Homo sapiens: one gene and its partners. Changing the gene in region 5 together with the main gene of any one other region gives a genetic interaction. Each region holds a gene or a part of one and is shown on either strand. Other genes may lie near its edges. The genes, in order: ERBB2, CDC14A, CDC6, RFC1, CHEK2, DAAM1 and LLGL1.

What was found.
Region 1: changes in CHEK2 (region 5) and ERBB2 together harm fitness more than expected from each alone (negative genetic interaction), as found in Homo sapiens cells (one large-scale study listed by BioGRID).
Region 2: changes in CHEK2 (region 5) and CDC14A are lethal when combined (synthetic lethality), as found in Homo sapiens cells (one large-scale study listed by BioGRID).
Region 3: changes in CHEK2 (region 5) and CDC6 are lethal when combined (synthetic lethality), as found in Homo sapiens cells (one large-scale study listed by BioGRID).
Region 4: changes in CHEK2 (region 5) and RFC1 are lethal when combined (synthetic lethality), as found in Homo sapiens cells (one large-scale study listed by BioGRID).
Region 6: changes in CHEK2 (region 5) and DAAM1 are lethal when combined (synthetic lethality), as found in Homo sapiens cells (one large-scale study listed by BioGRID).
Region 7: changes in CHEK2 (region 5) and LLGL1 are lethal when combined (synthetic lethality), as found in Homo sapiens cells (one large-scale study listed by BioGRID).

What each region holds. Positions count from the first base shown.
Region 1 is NC_000017.11:39,713,511-39,717,408, reverse strand, and holds part of ERBB2 (receptor tyrosine-protein kinase erbB-2 isoform a precursor), read right to left. Parts: intron 2,124-3,898; coding exon 2,050-2,123; intron 1,964-2,049; coding exon 1,873-1,963; intron 1,691-1,872; coding exon of another isoform or gene 1,670-1,690; coding exon 1,470-1,669; intron 1,139-1,469; coding exon of another isoform or gene 1,109-1,138; coding exon 976-1,108; intron 895-975; coding exon 804-894; intron 343-803; coding exon of another isoform or gene 241-342; intron 90-240; coding exon 1-89. UniProt on the Homo sapiens protein: Protein tyrosine kinase that is part of several cell surface receptor complexes, but that apparently needs a coreceptor for ligand binding. Essential component of a neuregulin-receptor complex, although neuregulins do not interact with it alone.
Region 2 is NC_000001.11:100,355,273-100,359,437, forward strand, and holds part of CDC14A (dual specificity protein phosphatase CDC14A), read left to right. Parts: intron 1-4,165. UniProt on the Homo sapiens protein: Dual-specificity phosphatase. Required for centrosome separation and productive cytokinesis during cell division. Dephosphorylates SIRT2 around early anaphase.
Region 3 is NC_000017.11:40,286,330-40,291,129, forward strand, and holds the start of CDC6 (cell division control protein 6 homolog), read left to right. Parts: upstream 1-1,549; 5' UTR 1,550-1,761; exon of another isoform or gene 1,762-1,803; intron 1,804-3,078; 5' UTR 3,079-3,091; coding exon 3,092-3,269; intron 3,270-4,728; coding exon 4,729-4,800. UniProt on the Homo sapiens protein: Involved in the initiation of DNA replication. Also participates in checkpoint controls that ensure DNA replication is completed before mitosis is initiated.
Region 4 is NC_000004.12:39,289,913-39,293,780, reverse strand, and holds part of RFC1 (replication factor C subunit 1), read left to right. Parts: intron 1-1,928; coding exon 1,929-2,142; intron 2,143-3,741; coding exon 3,742-3,868. UniProt on the Homo sapiens protein: Subunit of the replication factor C (RFC) complex which acts during elongation of primed DNA templates by DNA polymerases delta and epsilon, and is necessary for ATP-dependent loading of proliferating cell nuclear antigen (PCNA) onto primed DNA.
Region 5 is NC_000022.11:28,731,821-28,735,320, reverse strand, and holds part of CHEK2 (serine/threonine-protein kinase Chk2), read left to right. Parts: intron 1-593; coding exon of another isoform or gene 594-599; coding exon 600-918; intron 919-3,500. UniProt on the Homo sapiens protein: Serine/threonine-protein kinase which is required for checkpoint-mediated cell cycle arrest, activation of DNA repair and apoptosis in response to the presence of DNA double-strand breaks.
Region 6 is NC_000014.9:59,191,386-59,195,550, reverse strand, and holds part of DAAM1 (disheveled-associated activator of morphogenesis 1), read right to left. Parts: intron 1-4,165. UniProt on the Homo sapiens protein: Binds to disheveled (Dvl) and Rho, and mediates Wnt-induced Dvl-Rho complex formation. May play a role as a scaffolding protein to recruit Rho-GDP and Rho-GEF, thereby enhancing Rho-GTP formation. Can direct nucleation and elongation of new actin filaments.
Region 7 is NC_000017.11:18,228,285-18,232,449, forward strand, and holds part of LLGL1 (lethal(2) giant larvae protein homolog 1), read left to right. Parts: intron 1-1,656; coding exon 1,657-1,754; intron 1,755-4,165. UniProt on the Homo sapiens protein: Cortical cytoskeleton protein found in a complex involved in maintaining cell polarity and epithelial integrity. Involved in the regulation of mitotic spindle orientation, proliferation, differentiation and tissue organization of neuroepithelial cells.

The DNA of each region.
Region 1 (3,898 bases), on a different chromosome or scaffold from region 5:
GAGAGGTCAGGTTTCACACCGCTGGGGCAGCGGGCCACGCAGAAGGGAGGGTCCTTATAGTGGGCACAGGCCACACACTGGTCAGCCTCCTGGGGGGGGCAGAAAAGATTTGTGGGGGGCTGGCACTGACACCCCCAGGGCAGTAGGATCAGGCCCTTAGTTGGGTCCCCTTTGTGCTTCCCAAGGCCACCCAGCAGCAATTTTCGCCATGCTCCTGGGACAAACACCCTTGCTCTTCACCCAGTCTCTGTGGCCCCTCCCTCGGGGCCCTCCTCCAAGCTTGATCCTGGGCAGGGACTTGAGCCAGAAAATGGGAGGCACCCAGAGAGGAAAACGCATTACCTAAGGTGTAACAGCGAGTAACAACAGTCACTGCTCTGTAGAAAGCCTTTCCCGTGCTTCACTGTGCCAAGCCCTGTTTAATTTCATTCTTGCCACACCCCAGCAAGGTAGGTATTATTACAATACCCATTTTAGGAATAAAAAACCAAGGTTGGAAGCAGGAGCTGGGTCTGAATCCAGGTAGTCTGACGCCTGAGCCCACAGGGCTCACCACCCTAGCACAGCCACAGTCACAGCCACCAACACAGACCTCCTTAGAACCTTTTCATAGTCTGAAGGGCCCCAGTGTCCCCCAGGCCCCTTTTCTGCCACTCTGTTGCTGTTCAGGTCTGAGCGCTGAGCCCTCTCCAGGGATATTTTACCAGATAGCACACCCTACTGCATCTCGCCATCCTGCCAAGTCCCTGGCAATCCCCCTCGCTGCCCCCCTCCACCCAGCTCTGAGCCCGCCAGCAGCTCACCGGTCCAAAACAGGTCACTGAGCCATTCTGGGGCTGACACTCAGGGTGGCACGGCAAACAGTGCCTGGCATTCACATACTCCCTGGGGAGCCTGAGAGAAGGGACAGTGGTGAGGGGGTCTGAGAGGAGCCCCATGCACCCCTCCAGCCACCCTCTCCTCCGCCCCTCATACCCCTGCAGTACTCGGCATTCCTCCACGCACTCCTGGCCCCGAAGGAACTGGCTGCAGTTGACACACTGGGTGGGCCCTGGACCCCAGCAGTGCCCTCGGGCGCACAGCTGGTGGCAGGCCAGGCCCTCGCCCACTGCAGTGAGGAGGAAGGGACCGCAGGGGACTTTTAGGGGAGGCCCCAGGTCCAAGTGAACCAGGGAACTGGCTGTGGGCATGGCTGTGGGCTGGAGGGGTGGGGACAGGTGGGGCCGATGTAGGGAGAGGAAGAGTTCTGAGATTTCAGAAACAGAGGGGGAGGGAAGGATGCCAAGGCAGGTAGGACCCAGCTAGAGAAGCCATGCCAAGAGGCCAAGCCAGCCAGAGCTGTGCTGAGTCAAGAAGGGTGCACAGAGACGGGCAGTCTGCACAAGTCCAAGAACGCTGCTGCCAGGGCCCCCTGGGCACTGCTGTGTGCTGGCAGATGGGGAGTGCGCACACTGGGCTCCCTGTCTTACCACACTCGTCCTCTGGCCGGTTGGCAGTGTGGAGCAGAGCTTGGTGCGGGTTCCGAAAGAGCTGGTCCCAGGGCACCGTGTGCACGAAGCAGAGGTGGGTGTTATGGTGGATGAGGGCCAGTCCACTGCCCAGTTCCCTCAGTGAGCGCAGCCCCAGCCAGCTGATGCCCAGCCCTTGCAGGGTCAGCGAGTAGGCGCCACTATGGGAGAAAGGTGGGCACCTTACCACGGACCCCTTCCCGGTCAGCAAAGGCTATTCTCATCTTCCTCCATCCCCAGCACACTCTGCAGACTTTCATGGAAAGGTTACTGCTACAGGAGTACTCCCTCAGGCCCAAAGCTTCCCACAGGGACTCCTCCCTGGGACTCCTCCCCATCAGGCCCCCTCTTTCTCAGTGCTCACTTGTGCAGAATTCGTCCCCGGATTACTTGCAGGTTCTGGAAGACGCTGAGGTCAGGCAGGCTGTCCGGCCATGCTGAGATGTATAGGTAACCTGCAGGCAGAGGGTGAGATTAAAGGAGTGGGGACAGGACAAGGACTCCCAGCCCCTGCAGAACAGGATGCAGAGACAGAGCCCACCTGTGATCTCTTCCAGAGTCTCAAACACTTGGAGCTGCTCTGGCTGGAGCGGGGCAGTGTTGGAGGCTGGGTCCCTGGAGGGGTCAGGAGAGGAGTCAGCAGGGCCAGGAACAGGGTGGACATCACTCCCAGCACTGGCCATGCCAGCCACTCCCCACCATGAATGCCTTCACTCAAACCCTTTGCCCATCGAGCCCAGCTGTTCCCATCCTGGGCTTCAAAGCCCAGGCCTTAGTTCGGCAACATCTATCAAAACAGTATTTATATCCTTTGATCTAGAAATCTTATTTCTGCCTGGGCTCAGTGGCTCACGCCTGTAATCCCAGCACTTTGGGAGGCCGAGGCGGGCGGATCACGAAGTCAAGAGATGGAGACCATCCTGGCCAACATGGTGAAACCCCATCTCTACTACAAATACAAAAATTAGCTGGGTGTGGTGCCGCGCGCCTATAGTCCCAGTTACTCGAGAGGCTGAGGCAGGAGAATCACTTGAACCCGGGAGGCAGAGGTTGCAGTGAGCCGAGATCACACTACTGCACACCAGCCTGGCGATAAAGCGAGACTCTGTCTCAAAAAAAAAAAAAAAAGAAAAGAAATCTTATTTCTAGGAATGTGGCCTAGGGAGACACTGGCCCATGTTCCCAGAGCCACACACAAAGTGGAACTGTTTGTAAGAGTGAAAATGGAACATGATCTAAATGTCTATTAGTAAATAGGGGAGCTGTTAAATAAAACCCCGAGCCACCCAGCCACATAATAAAAACCAACATTTAGGAGCACCTAGTATCTGCCAGGCACTGTTCTAAGAGCTTTACAAATATTAACTCATTCAAACTTTATAATCATCTGGCCAGGCATGGTGGTATAACCATCTTATGAAGTTGGGACTGTTCTTGCCCCCACTTTACAGATGAAGAAACTGAGGCACAGCACAAGGGTCACATGCCTAGTAAGTGGTAGAGCCGGGTTTCAAACCCAGGCAGTCTGGCTCCCAAGTCTGGGCTCTTAGCTGCCTCTCCTTGCCGCCACCTGCTCTGCAGCTATTGAAAGAACAAGGCAGTTCAATGGGAACTGTCATGACCGGCTCTCAAAGCAAGGTGCAGACAGTGCTCCCTATATGTTCCCATTTACAGAAACCAACCTCCCCACCAAAACGACGAAAACCACACTTCACTGTGTGTGTGTCTACAGATGCATAAACGGTCTAGGTGAACACACACACTGTTAACCATGGCCCCCTCTGGAAAGGGGAGTGGAGGTAAAGGAAGTGTGAAAGGGAATTTTTTTTTTTTTTTTTTTTTTGAGACAGGGTCTCATTCTGTCACCCAGGCTGGAGTACAGTGACATGATTTCAACCCACTGCAACCTCCACCTCCCAGGCTCAGGTGATTCTCCCACCTCAGTCTCCCTAGTAGCTGAGACTACAGGTGCGTACCACCATGCCCGGCTAATTTTTTGTGTTTTTTTGTAGAGATGGGATCTCACTATGTTGCCCACGCTGTTCTTGAATTCCTGGGCTCAAGCAATCTTCCTGCTTCAGCCTCCCAAAGTGCTGGGATTACAGGTGTGCACCACGGCGCCTGACCCTTTTTTTTTTTTTTCTTTTTGAGACAGGGTCTCACTCTGTCGCCCAGGCTGGAGTGCAATAGCGAAATCTCAGCTCACTACAACCTCCACCTCCCGAGTTCATGCAATTCTCCTGCCTCAGCCTCCCAAGTAGCTGGGATGATAGGCGCATGCCAGGAAGCCTGGCTAATTTTTTATATTTTTTAGTAGAGATGGGGTTTCACCATGTTGGCCAGGCTGGTCTTGAACTCCTGACCTCAAGTGATCTGCCTGCCTCGGCCTC
Region 2 (4,165 bases), on a different chromosome or scaffold from region 5:
AGAGTGGGGATGGTGTATATATCATTATGTTCAATTCTACAGTACAGTGGTTGTTAATATGTCATTGAATGAGCTCTAGCCATGGAGATCTGAGTCACTTCTCTTGGGATTGCTAGGTGGTAGATCTAGCAGAAAATTAAGCCAAACTAAACACTGTGCATGATGGCTTTTTGATTTTAATATTGATAGATGAGGGAAATTTTTAATGTGATTTTCATGTTGGTATTTTGGGATAGGCCTACAAATCATATTCCTCTTATAGTCTACTGTTTTTCTGGTATCTTATAAGGAAAGACTTGCTGGAGAATCCATCCAATTTATATTGTGAGTTGGGATTGACATTTGAAATACGATGAGGACTTCAGCCTGGGCAGAGTGTGTACTTTTCTTAGTTTGAACTTACCCTACTGTGCCACAGTAATGGCTGTGGCTCTGACACCTCCAACTCCATCTTTTTTGTTACCCCAACATATTACATGGTGCTAGGTGATGCAGAGAATAAAACAATGTTGAATGCATATGTTACCTTCAAAGAGCTCCAAGCCTGTAGGGAAAATAACAGAACTGCAGTTTGAGGTATAGGAAAGATACCTGCCCAAAGAGAAATACAACCTCTATGCTAGGAGAGGCATTCACAGGCAGGTAGGGGCACATCTGGTGGAAGCGTTCAGCAAAGGCTTCGTGGAAGAGTTAAGATTGGCTTGAAGGATGGACAAGGTCTTATCAGGCAGAGACATGAGAGGAGGGATCTTGGAAAACAGCAAGTGTGAGGAGGGGAGAGGCTTGGGACGTGTGTTCAGGGAACAGTAAGTCCTCCAGTTTGCCTGGTGTGTATTCAGGGAACATGTAGGGGATGGAGAATGTGAAATTGAGATGTTGGCTGGGGACAGAATGAATGTCAGGGTGAGAAACCTGCAGTTTCTTTGGTACACCATGGGACTCTTGAGGGATTTGGGGCAGCCATGGTATGACTTGATTTGTGCTAATTACAAACAATGGGAAACATTTATTGAGCATTTAAATGTGTGCCAGATGCTGTTCTAGGTGCTCTATAACTATTAATTCATTGTGTTTTCACAACAATTCTGTGAGACAGGCACTATTATCCTTATTGTACAAAAAGGCATAGAGAAGCTGGGTCACTTGCCCAAGGTCACAGAAGTAAAAGTAGCAGAGCTGGAGTTTGAAACCAAGTCATCTAGTTGCAGAGGACATATATCCTTCTCAAAAAATTAATACAGTAGCATCATTTAAGAGGGGTTGTTAAGGAGATAAGAGCCCACTTAAAAAAATTCAGGGGGGACCAGGCATAGTGGCTCACGCCTGTAATCACAGCACTTTGGGAGGCCGAGGCAGGTGGATCACGAGGCCAGGAGTTCAAGACCAGCCTGGCCAACATGTTGAAACCCCGTCTCTACTAAAAATACAAAAATTAGCTGGGCATGGTGGCGTGTTCCTATAATCCCAGCTACTTGGGAGGCTGAGGCAGGAGAATTGCTTGAACCAGGACCTGGTAGGTGGAGGTTGCAGTGAGCTGAGATTGCGCCACTGCACTCTAGCCTGGGCTACAGAGCAAGACTCTGTCTAAAAAAAAAAAAAAAAAAAAAAAAATTCAGGGGAAAGAAACAAGTACCTGGATTAGGATGGTGACAATGGTGATGGAAAGAAGCGATCTGAAGCCATGTGACCTGGCAACACAGGAGGGTGGCGTGGAGGGGTGCTGAGGAAAAAGAGGGATCAAAGAAGTCCTTAAGACAGCTTAGGTTGTGGTGAGCCTACTGGAGCTCTTAACTGAAATAAGGAAGGAGGGTGGAATAATTGGCTTTGGTGGGAAGATCAGGCATTCCATTTTGGCCAGATTGAATTTAAGAAATTTAAGGGATATTTACATCACTGTTAGATATCACATACATTTGAGGTTCTTAAATTTGGGAATTTTCCCAAAGAGACTAATAAAGCTGTGAGAATGATGCGATTTCTGGGAAGATAGAGAAGGTCTCAAGGTCTGTATTTCACAAGTAGAACCAGGATGGGAGGAGCAAGGGAAGGTGGAAGTACGCAACAAAGAGGTGGACAAACACTGAAGGGGAAAGGAGAAAGGGAGAAGGACTGACTCCATCTCGTCAGCTCCACTTTGGGGAAGTATAGAATGAGAGAGACTGCAAAGCCCCTAGAAGGATGTCTAGTAACCCGGGCTCTGTCTGGAGGACGTCCTACAGCGAGAAAGATTTTGACTATCACATCATAATGTGCATGTCTCTGAGGAGAAGAATATATTTATATTCATTATCACACAGGCCTTTGTACTGTGTAATTATTTGCTGAATGTTTAAATTAAATGCTGCTTTTCCAGCTGGGTGTGCTTGTAGTCCCAGCTACTCTTGAGGCTGAGGCGACAGGATTGCTTGAGGCCTGCAGTTGAACTGAAAAGCCAGCCTGCCAGCCTGAGCAACATAGTGAGACCCCATCTCTTAAAAAAAAAAAAAAAAGAAAGAAATGCTGCTTTTCTGGCTAAATTATCACCTTAGAAGCGATTGTTTTTGAATCAGGAAGTAGACTCTTTAAATATTAGGCTGTGGATATTCTGGCCACAGCTGTGTTTTGCGCAGATGTTTCTTTAGTTATGAAAGGAGGACAGCATTCCATGATTGAAATGTCAACCTTCTGAGATGCTGGTGGAGAAAATTTAATGAGGTGGCCTCATGAGGTAAGGCTATTAAAAGTGAACGTTTGAATTATCTGCTTGATTTTTTAAAACAGAACTTATTACTATAAAGGCCTGGGCAGCTTTAATAAAATGAGGATGATAAGAAATCATCCTTTGTCCTTGGGTTATGATTTCACAGGTCAGAGTTAAAATCAAAGTATAGGCTAACACACTAGTGGTACAAAAATAGCTCCACAAAAAGGGAGCCTTTCAAAGAAGATTTATCTGCATTTGATTAAGCTACAAATAACACACCACTCCCTGGAAAGGCTTGTTCTTTGGTATTGGAATTGGGCCCCGTAATCCAAACAGGCGCTTACTTTTAATAACTTGGCTTACTTTTGTGTGGCTAAAAAGTTAGTGAAATGAAATATATTACTTGTTATGACATCTGTGTGCCCCTCCTAGTGGTGGTCATGGGTGTAGGGTTGGATGTTCATGGCATAGAAAGCCAGTTTGCTGGGAAGGATAGTGTATAGGGTCTTCATTTTCAGCCTGTCCATTGTCATTTCTTCTCTTTTTGAGTTGTGAAGAAAGGTATTGAAAGTGCAGGAAAGAGCTCTTTAGGGAGAAACTCTAGGGACTGAATTTTAAGCAGTTTCTGAAGTGACTTGAAGAATTTCACCAAATGTTTTAGCATGTTAAGAATGAGCAGCCTCTAATGAGAACTAATTAGCTAAATGGAAGATTTAAATAATTTAAAACATTCAATTTTCATTTAAACTTAATTAAAGCAGCCTGATATTAATGCATCCAGGAAGTTTTGGATAAGTAATTTATAGAAAAATGATTTCTTTTATCTTGTCTATAGCATAGTTTTGAGTCAAAATGTGAACATAGAATATTTATGAGAGAAGCATGGAAAAACTACTCTTGCCTAGAAATATTTGTGGGAATGCATATTTAGGTTAGAGGTAGGTCAGGAGAAACCCTTTTGGTTTTTAAATTTTTATTTCAAATTAAATGTATAGCAAGTAGGATAATTTAATGGAAGGTTGAATGCCACTTAAGCATATACACACATACACATATATATGATCTGATAGAGCCTTACGGTCATCATTTAGAACCTCAATTCTCATTATAAATTGCTATGATATAGACAGAAGAGGAGATTTGGTTGAACCTCGAGACAAATTTCATTGTGGGAATAATAATAAAGCCATAGCAACAACAACAGCAGCAGCAGCAGCAGCTAACATGTATAGCCCTGTGCCAGGCAGTGTTCTAAGTGGTTTACACGCACACATTAACTCAATTAATCCTCAGAACAAGCCTAGGAGTTAGATGCTGTTATTATCACTACTTAACAAAGGAGGAAGTAGAGGTCCAGAGAGGGAAGTATATTGCCTAAGGTCACTGAGCTGGTAAGGCAGAGCAGGGATGCAAGCCAGAGGCAGTCCACCCTGGAGTCCAGGCATTTCCCAGTTGGCCTGAGACTGATGCCAATGGGGAGGG
Region 3 (4,800 bases), on a different chromosome or scaffold from region 5:
GGTGGTGGAGATTGCAGTGAGCCGAGATCATGGCACGGCACTCAAGCCTGGGTGATAAAATGAGACTTGTCTCAAAAATAAAAAAAAAAAAAGCTTCCATTGTGTGGTAACTTTCTCCATTCATGGCAGCCCATTCTCTTCACTTTTGTAGTTTTCAGCTGCTAAAAAGCCTTCACGAAATGTACTCCACCATCTCTTCCTGTTTAGAACCTGAATCTGTCTAATCATCCCCCTATGATAAAGTGGTCAAGAGTTTGATTTTCTGTCAGAGTTCAGAGTTCAAATTCTAGCTCTTCCACTTACTAGTTGTGTGACCTTGGGCAAGTTTACTCAACTCCCCTCTACTGTAGTTCCCTCATTTGTAAAGTGAAATAACACCAGGTTCATGGGGGTGCTTGTGAAGATTAATAAGGTGATGTAGGTAAAATACTGAGCACAGCCCCTGGCATACACTTAAGCACTCAATATTGGCTCTCTTCATGAACTAGGTACCAATTCACTGATGATCGTAATATTGTTGCTTCCCTCTTTCTAGGCTTTATGGCTCTATTTTGTTTGTTACTGAGGGGTAAAAGATAAATGTTTACCATCACCTAGAATTGGGTTCTGGCCTCTAAAGGAACCTGAGGCTTAGATGAATTATTGGCTTTGGAAGCTGGCCTTCAAATTACTGCGCTAATTTATATTTTTCATTAAAAACTCAGCTTGCCTCTTCTATATAGCTGTCTTCCCTGGCCCTGAAACCCTAGTGTTTCGCCATAAAAGATTTTAAAATTAAGGGGTCATAATTCCCTCCCCATGATGTGTGGATTAATGGTAAGAAGATGCACAGAACATAATATTCTTAGGTTGAACGAAATAAAAGTAAAGAGTTGGCTCTGTTTCTCACCTTTGAAGCACAAATCAAGAGATACTATGATGAAGCATAGTTTTTCTTTATATAGGTGTGTAGAACTTTACCATAAAAATCACTAGTTCAGCCATCAGGAGATCTGGATCCTAGGCTCTTCACTGTCACCAAGATGCTGTGACCTCTAACCTTGTATAGAAGTTTGCTTTGTACTTTGCGAGGTTGAGCATTAGAGAGGTAAGGAAAGTGCCTAGCATCATACCTGGCGCACAGAACCCAAAACGGTAGGTATCATGTAGCAGTTCTGAAAATCTAGCCCATCAGGATGATGCAAATGGGTACTTTAGGCAGTGAGAAGGGGAACCACATCTTGACACTTCCAGTCGAAGGAAGAGTGCGACTGCGCGGCAGCAAAGACTACGCCTCCCAGCGTGCTTTGCGGCGGGCCGGCCCGCTTTACCCAGAGTCGCCCTGCCGCAATCGCGCGTCTTTCCACCGAGGCCCCGGATGTAGATTCCCTCCCCCGTTCAGTGGTCGTGGCCTCACAGCGACTCTAAGACTTGGGGCTCTCTCATTGGCTGTAACTCTTCCACTGGATTGGTAGCAAAAAAAGAGGCGGTGCCCAAGGCGAAAGGCTCTGTGACTACAGCCAATCAGAATCGAGGCCGGGCTTTGGCGGGAGGTGGGAACGCTGTGGCCATTCGGATTTGGCGCGAGCGCGGCTGGAGTTTGCTGCTGCCGCTGTGCAGTTTGTTCAGGGGCTTGTGGTGGTGAGTCCGAGAGGCTGCGTGTGAGAGACGTGAGAAGGATCCTGCACTGAGGAGGTGGAAAGAAGAGGATTGCTCGAGGAGGCCTGGGGTCTGTGAGGCAGCGGAGCTGGGTGAAGGCTGCGGGTTCCGGCGAGGCCTGAGGTGAAGTGAAGGGAAAAGAGCTGAGCTCGCTGGAGGTCTGAGGTCGGGATCAGGGAAAGGGCAGGTGCCCTCGGGGTAGTTCTAGCAGTTATGCGTGGTGTGAAGGAGGTGAAAGTTGTAGGAAGGAAATATTCTGGGGTGCGTTGAGAGCTGCCTAGAATGAGGACTGAGTGCAGGGGCGGAAAGAACTGAGGGAAGACTGAGCTGCAGTGTGAGGGCTTGGGATAGAAGAGACTAAATGTGGCGGGTGCTGGGCTGAACTGGTGATAAAGACACCCCGCGTGCCTGGAGGGAGGAAACTAGAAGTTCTATATAAATCAATTCATGTAACTTTTTTTTTTTTTTGAGACGGAGTCTCGCTCTTGTCGCCCAGGCTGTAGTGCAGTGGTGCGATCTCGGCTCACTGCAACCTCTGCCTGCCGGGTTCAAGCCATTCTCCTGCCTCAGCCTCTTCATGTAGCTGGGACTACAGGCGCCCGCCACCACGTCCGGCTAATTTTTTTTTTTTTTTTGAGACGGAGTCTCGCTCGGTCTCCCAGGCTGGAGTGCAGTGGCGCGATCTCGGCTCACTGCAAGCTCCGCCTCCCGGGTTCATGCCATTCTCCTGCCTCAGCCTCCCGAGTAGCTGGGACTACAGGCGCCCACCACCACGCCCGGCTAATTTTTTGCATTTTTAGTAGAGACGGGGTTTCACCGTGTTAGCCAGGATGGTCTCGGCCCGTCTCGGCCTCCCAAAGTGTTGGGATTACAGGCGTGAGCCACCGCGTTTGGCCGTAATTTTTGTATTTTTAGTAGAGACGGGGTTTCTCCATGTTGGTCAGGCTGGTCTCGAACTCCTGACCTCAGGTGATCCGCCCGCCTCAGCCTCCCAAAGTGCTGGGATTACAGGCGTGGGCCACCGCGCCCGGCCCATTTCAGGTAACTTGTTATTGCATCGCTCAATTGGTTAAGAACTTGGGCTCTGGCACCAGATGCCCGGGGTTACATTCCTGTTTTTCTGTGACTTTGGGCCACTGTTTATCTCAGTTTTCTCATGTGTAAAATAAAGGCTAATAATAGTACCTACTCCTAAGATCGTTGTTAAACGAGTTGGTACCTAAAGTGTTTATAACAGCGCCCTTCCACGTAGTAGGTAGACAACAAATGTCAGCTGTTCTTGCATAGATTTGGATGTGAAGCAAAAGTGAATGCTAAAATAAGTGTGATAACATAATTAGGAAATAAGTGTTAATCATCAGTATAAATAAATTCCATGTTAGTTATTTTCTCTTCACTTTCACATATTGACTAGTTGTCCTCTTATTTTTTTTAATCTAGCTGTGCTGTCGTCATGCCTCAAACCCGATCCCAGGCACAGGCTACAATCAGTTTTCCAAAAAGGAAGCTGTCTCGGGCATTGAACAAAGCTAAAAACTCCAGTGATGCCAAACTAGAACCAACAAATGTCCAAACCGTAACCTGTTCTCCTCGTGTAAAAGCCCTGCCTCTCAGCCCCAGGAAACGTCTGGGTAAACCATCCATTATATCACTTTTTCACTAGCAGCTCGTGACCTTTCTTTTCTTGGTAAGATGTGTGTCCTTTGAAGGAGCTTTCTAAGTTCAGTTAAGACTTCTTTTTTTTTTTTTTTTTTTTTTTGAGACAGAGTCTCGCTCCATCTCCCAGGCTGGAGTGCAATAGTGCGATCTTGGCTCACTGCAACCTCCGCCTCCTGGGTTCAAGCGATTCTCCTGCCTCAGCCTCCCAAGTAGCTGGGATTACAGGCGCCCACCACCAAGCCTGGCTAATTTTTTTTTTTTTTTTTTTTGGATTTTTAGTTGAGACAGGGTTTTGCCATATTGGCCAATCTGGTCTCTGAACTCCTGACCTCAGGTGATCCAACTGCCTCGGCCTCCCAAAGTGCTGGGATTATAGGCATGAGCTACCGCTCCTGGCCTAAGACTACTCTTCATTTTAGTTATTTTCAGAATGGTTGCTAAGTGCTTACCGAACTCCAGAGTTAGACACTTACTGAGGTCACTCTGAACTACTTAATAAGTCTGATCTTCAATTCCTTAATACTGAACTTAGTTCTGTCAATGTTTTAAGTTACCTTGTAGTTACATGGTATTATGAAACTTACCTCAATATTTGTGAAATTAAAAGAAACAAAAACGTGACATGATGAATATTTTCCATCCTTTAGGACAGTGATTGGTAATTCTTTCTTGTTTTGGAACATTTATTTTTAAATGGGGGGTAATTTGGTTGTTTCTGGAGACATTTTTGGTTGTTACAGCTGGGGGTTGCTACTGGCATAGTGGGTAGAGGCCAGGGATGCTGCTAGACATTACAATGCACAGGACAGCTCCTTGACAATGAAGAATTATTTGGTCCAAGATGTCAGTGGTGCCAAGGTTGAGAAAACCTGTTTCAAAATAGCCTTACAATTTCATCCTACTAAAACCCATTTGGTTTCTACTAAATGCAGTAGTCCCCACTTATCCATGGGGGATACATTCCAAGACCCCCAGTGGACGCCTGCAATCGAGGACAGTACCAAACCCTACATATACTGTGTTTTTGATTTGATAACCAAGTCAGCTACTAAGTGACTAGTGGGTGGATAGCATATACAGTGTGGATATGCTGGCTGAAGGGATGATTCATGTCTTGGGTAGGATGGTGCGGGATTTCATCATGGCACTCCACAGCATGCAATTTAAAACTTGTCAATTGTTTATTTCTGGAATTTTCCATTTAGTATTTTCAGACTGAGGGTAACTAGAACGGTGGATGAAGGGACTACTGTAGTAAGATCAGTGGTGCCATCTGGTGACCAATATTTGCTGCTAAGTGAGAAGGCATTTTATTTTGGTGGTTCTGACTAAGGTAGAAATTCACCTCTTTCTGGAAGAGGCAGAGGTCTTGCACATCCTTTTACTATCCAATGCTATGAGTGACTACATTTTTATTTTATTGTGTTTCAGGCGATGACAACCTATGCAACACTCCCCATTTACCTCCTTGTTCTCCACCAAAGCAAGGCAAGAAAGAGAATG
Region 4 (3,868 bases), on a different chromosome or scaffold from region 5:
CCCGCTAGACTCCATGTAGATTTTGAGCCCTGGACTTCCGGGTTGTTTTATGGCTATTCTTCACTGTCCTCTTCCCTCATTAGACCAAACATTTTTGGGGGTGGGAACTGCGGCCTCCTCATCTAGTAGTTGGGTCATATTTAGGCCATTATTATCAGCAAAGACATTTATAGTGAATTCATAATTTTTAAAGTAAATTAAGACCTCCCTACTTTTTAACCCTGATCAAGTCACTGAACTTTTTGTAGGTCCGTTTCTCTTCTTTAAAAAATGGAAGAGTGATCTTATTGGTTTGTAACCTTTTTGGGAGTCATAGATGCTTTTGAGAATCTGAATGCTTTGATTTTTATTCCCCTGACAATGCACAGATCCACAAAGAAAACACTTTTAGGGGAATTACAGATTCCTGAGGTTAAGAACCCTTGGTTTAGGTGCACTAAATGGCATCTTTGACTTTTCTATGAGTCTATTAGAAGATGATGATACTGTAAAACATTGTAGAACAGTTTTGGAAATGGTTTCATGATTTCTGGGGGTACTGTGGCTTAGGGACTCACACTGCTTCCTTTAAGTACTAGCGTGCTTAATTATGGAAGACAATCTAGAGGAAATGGATGAAATTAAACTAGGAGAGTTTTAAAAACTCTTTGTCTAGGTAATAGTTGCGAGGGTGAGTCTAGATTTCTGATCAGGAAAAAAGCTGTGGCTTCTTATGGTTCACACATTCAGTTCCTTGAAGGCAGGAGCAGGACCCATAGACAATTTGTAAAGAATCATTTCTTTTTGCTTCTGATGCTGGTTCTGATAACAACAACTTTTGAAGTTTTACGTATACAGGCTGGGTGCGGTGGCTCACGTCTGTAATCCCACCACTTTGGGAGGCCAAGGCGGGTGGATCACCTGTTAGGAGTTTGAGACCAGCCTGGGCAAGATGGTGAAACCCTGTCTCTACTAAAAATACAAAAAAAAAAATTAGCCGGGTGTGGTGGCGGGTGCCTGTAATCCCAGCTACTTGGGAGGCTAAGTCAGGAGAACCTCCTGAACCCGGGAGGTGGAGGTTGCAGTGAGCCAAGACTGCACCACTGCACACCAGCCTGGGCAACAAGAGTGAGGCTTCGTCTTTAAATAAATAAATAAATAAATAAATAAATAAATAAATAAATAATGTATACATATAAATGCCTGGTTTGAAGATAGAGGCAGCTGGGTTGGAAAGATTTAGGATGGTGGCATTTGAAATATTGTTTTGTTCAGTTGCTTTCTGTCTTTAAGAAGTGACAACATTTAAGAGAGAAAGAAAGAGTCATTTTATGATAACATTCGAGTTCTCAGCAGACCAGAGACTGTTTCCCTAAACCTTCCTCTGGCCACTGTGGATCACTTTTTGATTTTGTGGGAACACTCTGTAATTTTCTTAGATTTGGAGAAAAGCCGGCTCTAGAACTGACGATTTCAGAGTAACAGTATTAGGAAATGTGAGGGAAGCATTCATATATGATTTTGTGTGTTATAATCAGGGACCAAAAGGTGTTATACACATTCACACACTTGAGATAGGGAATTTCATTGCCTTATACTGATGCTTTTAATATTTTGGAACTTGGAACGAGTCATATTTATGAACACAAAGAAACATTCTGTTGCCTGGGCCTTAAGAGTAGGGTGGAAGTAGAATCCACGTATGTTTTTCAGTCACTGATGTAGGTAAGTAGAAAATTTCCTTTGGGCACATTGATGTGTACCCATTACCCTCATGCTGTGGTGCTGGGCTTTCTAAACTACACCAGCTGGCTGTCAAATAGTAGGCATTCCATTCAGCATTATTGAAATTGGATTGAACTCTGCCTGATTAACTCAGTGCTGTTATGCACAGTATGACTTGAGTTGATACTTTGCTGTTGACTATGTCTCTTTTGTTGTGGTTTCAGAACTTACTCCAGCAAAAGGACTGTAAACATGGATTATCTGTCGCTTCTAAGGGATGCACTTGTACAGCCCTTGACCTCACAAGGAGTAGACGGAGTACAGGATGTTGTTGCACTTATGGACACATATTATTTGATGAAAGAAGACTTTGAGAATATCATGGAAATCAGCAGCTGGGGTGGCAAACCTAGTCCCTTTTCAAAGCTGGATCCCAAGGTAAATCATGTCACTCACTGGTTCTTCGTCACTTTCTATTACCAGGTTTGTACTGACAATACTTCGGAGGTGTTTTAGATGCTTTAAGATTTACTTCTTTTTCCCCTCAAATGCTTGTTGCTTCTTATGGCCTATATTTTCCAAAGATACTATTTGAATGCAGTATTAAGAGTAGACTTCTGGGCTTGACTTTACAATTTGTATTTTTATCTTTGCTTTATGCTCAGTGGAAAAGCAAGAAGTGAAATTTGAGGAGCAAATATAAATATATTCTTTATAAAGGATGAGTGGATGAGTCTAGGGAATTAAAAGTTGAGCGGTGAGCTCTGGTGGTAATGGGTTGTAAAAATAAAATATGTTTATTGGCTGAGGATTTGTACAAATTTTCTTTTTCTTAGTCTACCTAATCTGTGGATTCAGTATTTATTCCAGTTGGATAATCTTCTCTGTAATAATGTATCCCCACTTTTCTTATAATGAGACGAAAAAAACTAAAGTGATACATCATGAATATGTAACATCCAATACCCAACTCTTGCACCTGTGTAATGAATGCGTTTTAGAAGACATATTCTCTGTAGTTTGCCCTCCCCAGAATTTTGACCCGACTTTATGGTTATCAGTAAATTCTCACAGCAGACATCCATTGTTAGAATTCATGGACTAATTCAGGAATTATGTTTAGAAGCTTGAAGGTAAGACTTTCAAGTTACTTAGTATTTTGAAGTAACTACTCTTATTATGGAAAAGGTATCTAGTGTTTTGTGGAAATTAAAGGCCAACTTATATCTTGTGATGAGCTCCCCCAACCTTTTTTTTTTTTTTTGAGACAGTCTAGCTCTGTTGCCCAGGCTGAAGGGCAGTGGTGCGATCTCGGCTCACTGCAACCTCTGCCTCCCGGGTTCAAGCCATTCTCATGCCTCAGCCTCCCAAGTAGCTGGGATTACAGGTGCACTCCATCACGCCTGGCTAAGTTTTGTATTTTTAGTAGAAATGGGGTTTCCCTATGTTGGCCAGGCTGGTCTCAAACTCCTGGCCTCATGTGAACTGCCTGCTTTGGCCTCCCAAAGTGCTGGGATTACAGGCGTGAGCCACCACACCCAGCCGAGCCCCTTTTTGATTTACTGATTCACTGATTAACTTTGCTTACTACTTTGTAGAAATGTGGAGAATGCTGAATAGGTAAACATGATGACTTGAAGTGACCTTTTGTTTGTTTGTTTGCCTAAAGTTCCCAAATATATATATACGTATTTTTTTTTTTTTTAGACAGAATCTCACTCTGTTACCCAGCCTGGAGTGCAGTGGCGCAATCTCAGCTCACTGCAACCTCCACCTCCTGGGTTCAAGATTCTCATGGAGAAGCATGAGCCACTGTGCCCCACCTTCAGTCTTTTTTGTCATGGGCTCTATTAAGAATGTTATGAAAAATATGGAACTTATCCACAGAAAAATGCACGTACTTAGATTTACATGTATATACATAAATACTTTGCAAACAGTTGCAGGGGGCTCCCAGGGTCTCTTTAGGCTTACAGAGTTTAAAAGAATTGTTTGGGACTTAGATTTTTAAAAACTCCATCTACTCCTTTCATATAGGTGAAAGCAGCCTTCACAAGAGCTTACAATAAGGAAGCCCACCTTACTCCATACTCACTTCAAGCTATAAAGGCATCTAGACACAGCACAAGCCCATCCCTGGATTCGGAATACAATGAAGAATTAA
Region 5 (3,500 bases):
GATTCTCCTGCCTCAGCCTCCCGAGTAGCTGAGAATACAGGTGCCCGCCACCACGCCTGGCTAATTTTTTGTATTTTTAGTAGAGACGGAGTTTCACTATGTTGGCCAGGCTGGTCTTGAACTCCTGACCTCATGATCTGCCCGTCTTGTCCTCCCAAAGTGCGGGACTACAGGAGTGAACCCCCGCGCCTGGCCCCCTGTATATATGAAATTTAAATGTAGTGTTGATTGTATCAGTACATTTTTGGTTTCAGTCTTAATTTAAAAGAATTGGACAAATGTAAGCTTTTATGAGCCCCCCAGCTCAATTTTATTGCTTTTTACTTATTTGTAACCTTCAGATAATTTGTTTTTCCCTGTAGTTTATGGCTGTCAGATAAAAAACTGATCTGGTGACAATGATCTGGTGAAAAGCTCAGCCCAGAAGAACTATAGGTCTGGGCTGTTAGGACTTTTAATTTTTGGAGAGCATGTTTGCCCTGTTTTTTTTTTTTTCTTTTCTTTTGCTGTTGTAATAGGCCCATCATTTACTTTTTAATTTTAAGTCTTGTGCCTTGAAACTCACCTTTGTTGTTGGACACTTTCTTTTTGAGGTCGTGATGTCTCGGGAGTCGGATGTTGAGGCTCAGCAGTCTCATGGCAGCAGTGCCTGTTCACAGCCCCATGGCAGCGTTACCCAGTCCCAAGGCTCCTCCTCACAGTCCCAGGGCATATCCAGCTCCTCTACCAGCACGATGCCAAACTCCAGCCAGTCCTCTCACTCCAGCTCTGGGACACTGAGCTCCTTAGAGACAGTGTCCACTCAGGAACTCTATTCTATTCCTGAGGACCAAGAACCTGAGGACCAAGAACCTGAGGAGCCTACCCCTGCCCCCTGGGCTCGATTATGGGCCCTTCAGGATGGATTTGCCAATCTTGGTAAGACCCTTTGTTGTATAGTATCACGTTTTGTTCAGAAAAACACTTACAGAAAGTTGTATTACCAGGTGGAAGGTTCTGATTGGAGTTGTCCAGGTTTTTGGCACGTTGAACAAATAATTGAACATCATGCATGAACAAGCAATGAAAGCATAGATTTATTGAAGTGGAAGGCAATAGAAGCTAAAGTACATGTCACAGGATGGGAGCAGGCCTGAGCAAGTGGCTGCAGAGCCCTTGTAGCAAAGTCTTCTGGGGTTCAAGTACCCTCTAGAGGTCTCCCACTGTTTACATCCTATGTAAATGAAGTGCTGGCTCACAGCCCATTAGAGGCCAAAGTGAATTGGAGCTCGGCCATTCCAAGACTGGTGTGGATTGACGCCTTATGCAAATGAAGGTCCTAGAATGGACGGATCATAGGCCAGAGTGCAAATTCTTCCTTTTTTGTTTAGTTTCAGGAATTTTTTTTTTTTTTTTTTTGGCAACGGAGTCTTGCTCTGTCGCACAGACAAGTGCAGTGACGCCATCTCGGCTCGGCTCACTGCAGCCTCTGACTCCTGGGTTCAAGCGATTCTCCTGTCTCAGATTCCTGAGTAGCTGGGATTACAGACACACACCACCACACCTGGCTAATTTTTGTATTTTTAGTAGAGACGGGGTTTCACCACGTTGGCCAGGCTGGTCTCGAACTCCTGGCCTCAAGTGATCCTCCTGCTTCGGCCTCCCAAAGTGTTGGGATTACAGGCATGAGCAACCGTGCCCATCTATTCCAGGAAGTTTGCGTGAATTGGCCATAGATTCCCTGCCTTCAGACCCTATTTTCCTGCCTTAGTTAGTTGCAGCAGAATGCTTGAGCCACTCTTAGAATAATTCTGGAGTTTGAATGTGATAAAAGGTAAAACCAAAGAGGCAGTATTGGGTGTTGCCCTGGCTGTTACCTGCTGTGGATTCTGTTCATTTACTCTTTCAACAAATAATAATTGGACATTTACAATGTGCTGTCCATCCAAAGATCTGAAGGTAGCTTTGGACCCTCTTCCTAGAAAAATGCAGATTCACTCAAACTTGCAAACATTATCCCCTAATCACAAAAGCTTCACTAGTTAACCTCTGCTGTGGTTTGCCACAGCTTCAGAGAATCAGAGCTGTTCAGAATAGAGATGGCCATTTGTTGACTACTTGTTACTTGTTTTTGTCTCAAAATAGCCAACCTTGTGATTTAAACATGTTGACCCTTTCTGACACCTCCTGGTTCCAATAGTAAGTTTTGCTCTGCATATGTTTAAAATACACATGTGTGTATTTTAACATTGCCAGGCATGGTGGCTCACGCCTGTAATCCCAGCACTTTGGGAGGCCAAAGCGGGAGGATCACTTGAGGCCAGGAGTTCGAAACCAGCTTGGGCAACATGGCAAAACCCTGTCTCTCCTGAAAATACAAAAATTAGCCAGGTGTGGTGGCGCATGTCTGCAATCCCAGCTACTCAGGAGGATGAGACATGAGAATTGCTTGAACCTGGGAGGCAGAGGTTGCAATGAGCCAGGATTGCACCACTGCACTCCGGCCAAAAAAAATAGTGTTTTTTTTCCTTTCGCTTACATTGCAATGACCTCTTTAATAAACAAATTTGAACTTGGCATTAACAGGATAGAATATGTTAATATAAAGAAATGAAGGACTGATGTATCATTTTGTGTTTTGTCACTCACCATCCTTGTTTTATTTCATGTCTAACTTTGATATCTTGAAAAAACTATAAAAAATGGAGGAATATACCTGCATTCCACATATACAACTTTAAATTTATAAGTAGACACTCGAAGCTATTTTTAACTGATTTAAAATATATTTTTCAGACCGGGCATTGTGGCTCATGCCTGTAATCCCAGCACGTTGAGAGACCAAGGCAGGTGGATCACCTGAGGTCAGGAGTTTGAGGCCATCCTGGCCAACATGGGGAAACCCTGTCTCTGTTAAAAATACAAAAATTAGGCCAGGCGTGGTGGCTCATGCCTGTAATCCCAGCACTTTGGGAGGCCGAGATGGGCGGATCACCTGAGATCGGGAGTTCGAGACCAGCCTGACCAACATGGAGAAACCCTGTCTCTACTAAAAATACAAAATTAGCTGGGCATGGTGGCGGGCTCCTGTAATCCCAGCTACTCAGGAGGCTGAGGCAGGAGAATCGGTTGAACCTGGGAGGCAGAGGTTGCAGTGAACCGAGATCTCGCCATTGCACTCCAGCCTGGGCAACAAGAGCGAAACTCCATCTCAAAAAAAAAAGAAAAAAAAATTTGCGGGGCGTTGTGGCAGGCATCTGTAATCCCACCCACACAGGAGGCTGAGACAGGAGAATTGCTGGAACTTGGGAGGTGGAGGTTGCAGTGAGCTGAGATTGCGCTACTGCAGTCCCGCCTGGGTGACAGAGCGAGATTCCGTCTCCAAAAAATAAACAAATAAATAAAATACAATATATTTTTTCAGATAGGCCTATAGGTTTAGATGAGTGAGAAATAGAAATGGTGAGAAAGGGCTAAATGGGATACATCACCTTTAAAAGTAAGAAAACAAAGAGGCTGGG
Region 6 (4,165 bases), on a different chromosome or scaffold from region 5:
GAAATACAGGTAGCCTTAAAACCCCAATCCTGGTGTAATTTATAGAACAGAATAAACCCAGGTTATTACTAAAGGTGAATGACATACTTAAAAAGTATAACAAGATGAGGCCAGGCGCGGTGGCTCACGCCTGTAATCCCAGCTCTTTGGGAGGCCGAGGCAGGCGGATCACGAGATCAGGAGATTGAGACCATCCTGGCTAACACGGTGAAACCCCATCTCTACTAAAAATACAAAAAATTAGCTGGGCGTGGTGGTGGACACCTGTAGTCCCAGCTACTCAGGAGGCTGAGGCAGGAGAATGGCGTGAACCTGGGAGGCGGAGCTTGCAGTGAGCTGAGATCGCACCACTGCACTCCAGCCTGGGCGACAGAGCAAGATTGTCTCAAAAAAAAAAAAAAAAAAAAAAGTATAACAAGATGAATGATTAAGAAAAAAGAAAAACCTTCTGAAATCAATGTCTGTTCAAAAAATTTTATGATTGTGTAGCCTAATGGCTAACAAGCCTTTTGTTTTCATGTTTCCCTTCCTGGCAATATGCCGTTAAGGCATAGCTTTCCTATTATTTCCTTGTGTTTTAGTCAATTGTCTTCATTAAATATTGTCTAAGTGGCACAATATCTAGTTTTAAGCCAAAAGGAAAAGATCTATTGTAAGTCACGAAATCGCACCAACTGCATTGGAAATTGAACTTGCTTCCCTGGTTTTCCCCATTTAATTCACAACTGTGGCTATGGTTTAAAAGAATAGAAATTGTTTATTTGGCACCAAATTTGCTCCACTGTAAAAATAAATAAAAGTATCTCTTCTGAGGTGGGGGGAAAAAGTTTATTTTAATATCTAAGGCTATCCAATATTAGATTACATGTTTGACTACTGCTCAAGTGTTCATTATTTTCTTTTCAAAAGAGCTTTCACAATGTATGTTAAAAGACTACAGGGAAGAGGGAGGCTGAGAAATTATGGGCCCTCTTAACTCTCAACACAGGCTTCTGTGGCCCTGTTCAGGGTGAGAAGATCTTTTATCAGATGAGGGATTCAACCCAGTGAAAAGTTACCTCACTTAACAAATAAGGTCTAATGCTGGACAGGCTCCAAACAGATTTAGAGTTGTAATATAAGAGCATTTCCTTTTTCAAATAATTTGTCTATCGTTCATACAGCAAAGGAGAGCTCCAAAGTTTTATCATTTAAATACTCAAAAACAACATTTTTAATCTCACACAACATTTTCTGTTCCAGAAAATCAGGCTGTAAGAACCTGTGACATGAAGAAGTCATTTTACTCTCAATTAATCCAGGACTTACTGACCCAGCACTGTCTGAGAATTAAGAGACTCAAAGGAAGCTGTGATTACCCCAACTCGAGTTGCAGAGAAAAGAATAACGTGCCGGAAAGTCAGAAACCAGGCAACATCAGGATGTATAAAGAACTAGACTGCTTGAGTCCCTAACCTGGTCTGCCACTTACAGGCTGTGTGGCCTAAGCTAGGCAAGTTCTTTAACTTCTCTGTGCCTCAGTTTCCTCATCTAGAACATGGCAATAAAAGTATCTATCTTGTATAATTATGTGCAGTCAATGACGTAGCCCATGGAAAGTATTAGAAAGGGCTTGGCATGAGGTAGGCACCTCACATACAATATCGGTATCAAATTAGCTGTAAGTGTTGTGTGGTCAAGCTAAGTGCTTTAAGGAGGAAGGGCAGGGAAGGCTTCGTGGAAGCTGTGGCACCTGAGCTAGATATGAAAGCACAAGATAATCCAGACACTCAGAGGGAAGCACATTCCAGACGTGGACAGCCATTACTGCAGAAAGTCACAGACAGAGTAAAAACCAGGAACGCTTAAACATCAATGAGGAAAACAAGCTCACCAAAGCTGAGGGTGTATTTGGTAACCCCAGATTAATTGGGAGTGATGGGGAAGGCTCTGCACACTTGTTGCTGTGCTTCTAGGACTTAACATTCAGTTCATTTTTAGACACATGTTCTATGTATGCAAACTTGTGGACTATGAATGCAAACTCTCCCTGAAATGCTCTGTTCTCCCCCTGCTCCTAGAACAGTGGAAAGGATACTAAAAAATTAAAAGGTAACCTTTTATTTCTGAAAAAAAAAATCTGCTGGATGAAATATAGGTCACTAAAATCAACTTGAATCTCATGTTCGTCTGTCCCTGTTTCAGTGGGGCTACAAACAAGGTGACAGCTCAGAGAAAGGGGGTGAACTTCAGATCCACACTTCAACGCTGGTCTCTATCAGCAGCCTCAGCCACTCTAAATAATATAATCTACATAAAAGACAGTACACTTGCTAAGTGAATGCATCTTCAAGAGGGGTATCATCCACCCTAGCCTGATCTGTCAACCAGACATTACCTCCAAGCCACATACAGAAATAGAGAAAATGCTCTCAGTACCAGTTTCTTAAATAGTACCTGTGCAATCAATTTCCTCTAAACTTTGAGGGTTTTGTTGTTGTTGTTGTTGTTGTTGTTTTGAGACGGAGTCTCGCTCTGTAGTCCAGGCTGGAGTTCAGTGGCGCAATCTCCGTTCACTGCAAGCTCCGCCTCCCTGGTTCAGGACATTCTCCTGCCTCAGCCTCCTGAGTAACTGGGACTACAGGCACCCGCCACCACACCCGGCTAATTTTTTGTATTTTTAGTAGAGACGGGGTTTCCCCGTGTTAGCCAGGATGGTCTCGATGTCCTGACCTCATGATCCTCCCGACTTGGCCTCCCAAAGTGCTGGGATTACAGGCTTGAGCCACCGCGCCCGGCCTAAACTTTGAGGTCTTGAAACCACTACAACAGATGCTGTGCGTACTTAAGATTGGTATTCACTTAGAATATTACCTCTATTACCAAGTTAGAAATTGTAATACCAAAATAAGTCACCATATTCCTCATCCAAAGAGGAAAAAATCACAACAGAATATAGAACTTCTATTTTGACTGGTGTCCCCTCTAGAGAGAAAACAAGTTTGCTAACCCAAGTTGGACACCTTGCTTTGTTTCCGGCAATATAAGGATAGACTTAACACTGGAAATACCAGAGCACGGCTTGAAGCCAGGGAGGGCCCCACAGCAGTTACAAGCTCTGTGATTATTTCCTGAACCAAACACCTAGGGCACTCAAGGATACCAAGCTTTGTTGGAAAAGCATGTTTCCTCTGGTCCAACAGCTGCAACTTTAAAGTGTTTTCACACAAGACCTCAAGTTTCTCTTTATGCCATCTCCCAAATATTTACAAAATGAAACACTTTCAATCAGAACTTTTGCTTGTAAACACCTTATTTGTTTTAAGGACCATAGTGCCAACACTAAAAGCAGCCTTTTAAACAAAGTAGCTCAAAACCACACACACACACACACACACACACACACACACACACACACACACCCCTTAACAAGCAGAACATGTCCACAAAACAAGAAAGCCAGGATTCAAATTCCTTAGCACCTATTCATGGAGCTCCTGTAAGCACCACCCAAGGATGTGACCCACCACACCCTCTTCATTATCACACCTCCTCACTAATTTACTAATTTATGCTCCTGAAAACCCACAGAATCAGACTACTGGATGGTAACATGTTACAAATATTGGGCAAATGTTCTTTCACATTTCTTTCACATCAACCAGCCTGAAACAACTGATCCTGTTTACGGAACGGCTCTGCCTCAGGTGAGAGGACTATTGTCTCCCAGCTCTTCTGGGAGACACTGGTGGCCTGGCAAAGGCTTCTGGGTATCTTTCTCTTGGTGTCTCTCCCTATTCACGTGTCACACACCTCCTGGGAAGATTATCTGGGCCAAGGATAGTGCAACTGAGAGAAATCTAGAAATGCCTGGTTCAGGGGTAATAAGAAATTGTAACTACAAAGAAACAGTCGATGTGAGTGAATGTATTCTAAAAGCAAATAATTAGGAAATATGTCTATTTCAAATACATAGAAGGCCTTTTATGCCAGACAAGTTTTGGTTTATGATGAAATGAAACTGCTTGATAGAAAAGCTAAGGGGAATATTACCACGGATGACAGAACTATCAGTGGAAATAATAGACCTTGGATCTCCAATCATAGTTCTGCTACTTAATATTCGTTTAACATATATTTATTAAAGACCTACAAATGAACAAACTGCTCTAAATGCTGGGGGGAC
Region 7 (4,165 bases), on a different chromosome or scaffold from region 5:
GAGGAGATTACTCCTGAGCGACAGGAAGTGCTGGAGGAAGTGCGTTCCAGGCAGAGGGGCAGTAGGTGCAAAGGCCCTGAGGCACAAGCCTCCCTTAGCTGGGAGCCCCAGGAGGATCCTGAGCAGGGGAGGGACAAGGATCTGGCTGTGGCTTTCATAGGATCCCTCTGGCCTCTGTGGGAACAGACTGTAGTGAGTACCAATCCAGGCACGTGACGGTGGGGCCTGGAGCAGGGAGGGAGGTGACTTCTGTGTGTTTTGAAACTGAGTTGATGGGGCTCAGAAATGGACTGGACGTGGGGTATGAGGGAAGCAGATGCTGGACAGTGCATGTAACCTCCTTTCCTCGTTTGTAAAATGGGAAGGCTGTGGGGATTTGCGATGCAGTGTCCCGTCTCTGGACCCTGGTTGTAGCGAGGGACTGGCTAGACAAGGTCAGGTGCAGCAAGGGCGTGGTATTATTGGTGGGAGAGAGAAGCCCCAGCCAAATCGCCAACTCTGTCCTTAGGTGGGCTTACTGTCCCAAGGGCCCAGATGAGAGACTGAAGCTTGGAGAGTACTGAGTCTTGGAGAGTACTGTGACTTGCCCAAGGCCAGACAGCTAGGCCGTGACCAAACCAGCTGCCCAGAGGGCTCAGTCCCCACCTGGATGGGCAGAGGCAGGCAGGGAGGGAGGTTCGCGTTACAGGCTGGGAACTGGGGTTTCTTACAAATGTGCATCTTCCTGAGGCAGTGGGTCAGGAATTACCAGTGGTAAAAGTGAAAAATAAATAACAACAACAAGATAAAAGGAGTTACCAGTGGCCCACGTGGGTGTCCTGCACTGGTGTTCAGGATGGGGCTGGAGCTCAGCTGTGCAGGCTTCCCAGGGAGGGCACAGCCAGGCCAAAGACAGGAGACTGGTGCAGAAAGGGTGTGCTGTGAAAGGGGCAGGGGAGCGGGTGGGGAGCTGTTTCATCGACACTCTGGGCACACAGACCCCCTTAACACCATCTCCGCCCCTGATGGTTATGGGAGTCATGTTGCCCAGCTGTTGGCAGGTGGGGAGGTGGGAGGATGCCTTCGGGGTCCAGGCAGAAAGCTACCCCTCTCTGGGCCTCTGTCTCCCTGTGTCTGGGAGGAGTCAAAAGCCTCTGCCTAGCTGATCCTGGATGTTGTCCCTTGACCTCTGACCTCCACTCAGGCCTGTGTTTGGGGAGTGTCATGGTCATCTTGCGGGACTCCTCCGCAAGCTTTAGTCTGTGCCTCTAAAAATGGGGTGCAGAGCCCTTCATGGAGCAGGTGGGGCCTCATCAGTGCCTGCACCTCTGTGAGCCTTGCTTCACCTGTTTGTTGCTGGAGCCTCCATGCAGTGGGGCCCACATGAGCCTGTGTGCATTGAGGGGCACAGGGGCTTGGCAAAGGGCGGGCCTCTGTGGACTATGCACGCGGTACAGTCATGGTGGAGGCTAGGGGTTTAGCCACCTCCCCACCAACTGGAGGCATGATAACCCATTTCACAGTTGAGGACGCTGAGGCACAGAGCAAGTAGACCTGCCTCCTACCCCCAGTGTGTCAGCTGCAGACCCTGGAGGCTGCCTTGGGGTGGGCCTCAGGGTGGGCCATGGCAGAGGTGCCTGGGAGTGCTTACCCCCAGCAGCCCTCCCCTCCTTGCAGACTGTGGAGCATGGCTTCCCCAATCAGCCCAGCGCCCTGGCCTTCGACCCGGAACTTCGCATCATGGCCATCGGCACCAGGTCTGGGGCTGTCAAGATGTATCCTTTGCAGGACAGGTGTTCAGGGTCTGTTCAGGACCACCTGCCTGTAGTTCCCTGTGCTCTGGGGTCCCAGTCTTGGCAGTGTCCAGCTCGAGAGGAGGACAGAGGTGCTCTGATGGGCAGTAGTGGGGGCTTCTGCGGAGGTTGGCGTGGCTTCTGTACCTGAGACAACTGTGCAGAGATGATGGGGTCCTTTTGCTGAGAGACGGGTGGTGGGGGGTCAGTTTGCAGTAGCACAGCTGTCCCTTGCTACGTGTCAGCCAGCCAGTTACCTAGGCGACCCTGCCATCGTCCCAGCAACTCTGGGGAGGCCAGGCAGAAGGCTGGGCTATGATACCCATGGAGGGTGGCAGGTGGGCTGGGGGCCCTGGTGAGCTGATGCACACATGTGTGAATGTGAAGACACATGTGTTCAGCAAAGGGGCCTGGGGGCAGTGCCAGGCTCGGCATGGTGAGCACAGCACGGCCCCCACCTGGATACTGGCTGCTGCACAATGGGCTGTGTGAGCCACACAAAGCGGGCATTTTCCCTGCAGGCCTGGGGTGGGGGTGGGGGCAGGCCGGCAGCTCAGTGTCTCCTTGCCAGCCCTGGAGAATCCCACCCCAACTGCTCTTGGGGAAGCCGAGGTGCCAGGGTCTGGCTGATGGCGGCTTGGTGAGGGGTGCTGACCCCTACCCCTCCTGTGTGGCCTTCTGGGTTTCAGTATCCTGGTTTCAGACATCAGTTCCCAGAAAATGTGTCAGTGCTGGGAAAGGGGAGGGTGTGGGATGGGGGTCTCCTCACCCCAGGACTGGGGGCACTGATCAGGCAGGGATGGGACTCTGAGCCTGTGGTTTGTGAGCTCTTTGCCTACTCTGGGGAGTGTGGATGGGCTGAGATGTCCCCTTCTCTCCCATGGCCCCAGCGGCCTCTGTTGGTGAGTGTGGCAGTGCTCTGGGCCCCACATGCTCCGCTGCCTGGCCTGCTGCTCCCACTCCTGTGGGTGCTGCGCTGCGTGCGCACATGTGTCCCTGCAGCCTTCAGGTGTCCCTCCTGTGTTGGGGTCTCCAGTGCACTTGTCCTCAGGCTCAAAAAGAACCTGAAGTGCAGATGAGGAGACTGAGCCTCAGAAAGGAGGCTGGAGCCCGGGGTCCTCTTCCCTTTTTCCCCTGACTGCCACTGCCTGGAGCCCCTTGGGTTGGGAAACTGAGGCTGGAGAGGGCCAGCCCTGGTCACTAGAAGCTGCCCCTCCCCCTGCCAGGCCAGCCCCATCTCCTTGACGACCCTGGTTCCCGCCCAGCTGCTCCTGTCCCCTCTTTTGTCCCTTCTTCGGAGTTTCTCGCCAGGCTCCTGTAGGGAATCTGAGCTCAAGCTCCAGGCAACGGCTCCTGTGTTGTCACCGGGGCAACGTTGCTGACTCCTCCCTGCACCCTCTGTCATGGGGCCCCCTCAGGCCCTGCTGTCCACCATCAGCCCTGGAGTTGCCGGGACTCAGGCACTGACACTGGGCACTTCAAGCAGGTCATCCACCCCCTCCAAGTCTGTGTGCTCATCTGTGAAATGGGCAGGCTGGAGTCTCTCCTCCCTCATGATGGCAGTTGTTGGCTGCCTGCTTTGGAGGGAGGTGGGTTTTTTTTGTTTTGTTTTGTTTTTTTGAGATGGAGTCTTGCTCTTTGTTGCCCAGGCTGGAGTGCAGTCGCACAGTTTTGGCTCACTGCAACCTTTGCCTCCCGGGTTCAAGCAGTTCTCTGCCTCAGCCTCCCAAATAGCTGGGATTACAGGTGCCTGCCAGCATGCCCGGCTAATTTTTGCGTTTTTAGTAGAGACGAGGTTTCACCATCTTGGCCAGGCTGGTCCTCAACTCCTGACCTTGTGATCTACCTGCCTCGGCCTCCCAAAGTGCTGGGATTACAGGAGCGAGCCACCGTGCCCAGAGGAGGTGGGTTTTCTTACCCATGGCTGAAGTTTGGCCTGAAGCTGTGGGAAAAGGCAGCCTGGACTCTTCTGCCCCCTGGCTTTCTTGTCCAGGCCTGGCCTTGCACCTCTGGCCTGCCTGATCCCATCCGGCAAGGCGCAGCTCCCAGAACCCATAGACACACGGAGCTGAAGTGGAGCGGAGCCCCATCCTCTCACCAGGCTGAGGCCAAGCCTGCTGGGTGTGTTTATTCTCACTTGATCTGCAACAGTCCTGTAAAGTGGGAGTCACTGGCCCAATTTACGGGAAGTGAAGGTCCTATAGCAGCACCTGACTTGCAGGAGTGAGTGGAGCCTGCACACTGATCTTGGGGATACTGTAGGGGTGCAGAGTGGGAGCTTTAGGGAGGGGGCCTCCGTTCTTCAGGGAGGACTCCTGGATGGTCAGGCCCATGCCGGGGCCCACTGGAATAGTCCGGGTCAAGGAGGAGCCTTGGGTGTCTTCCTCACTGTG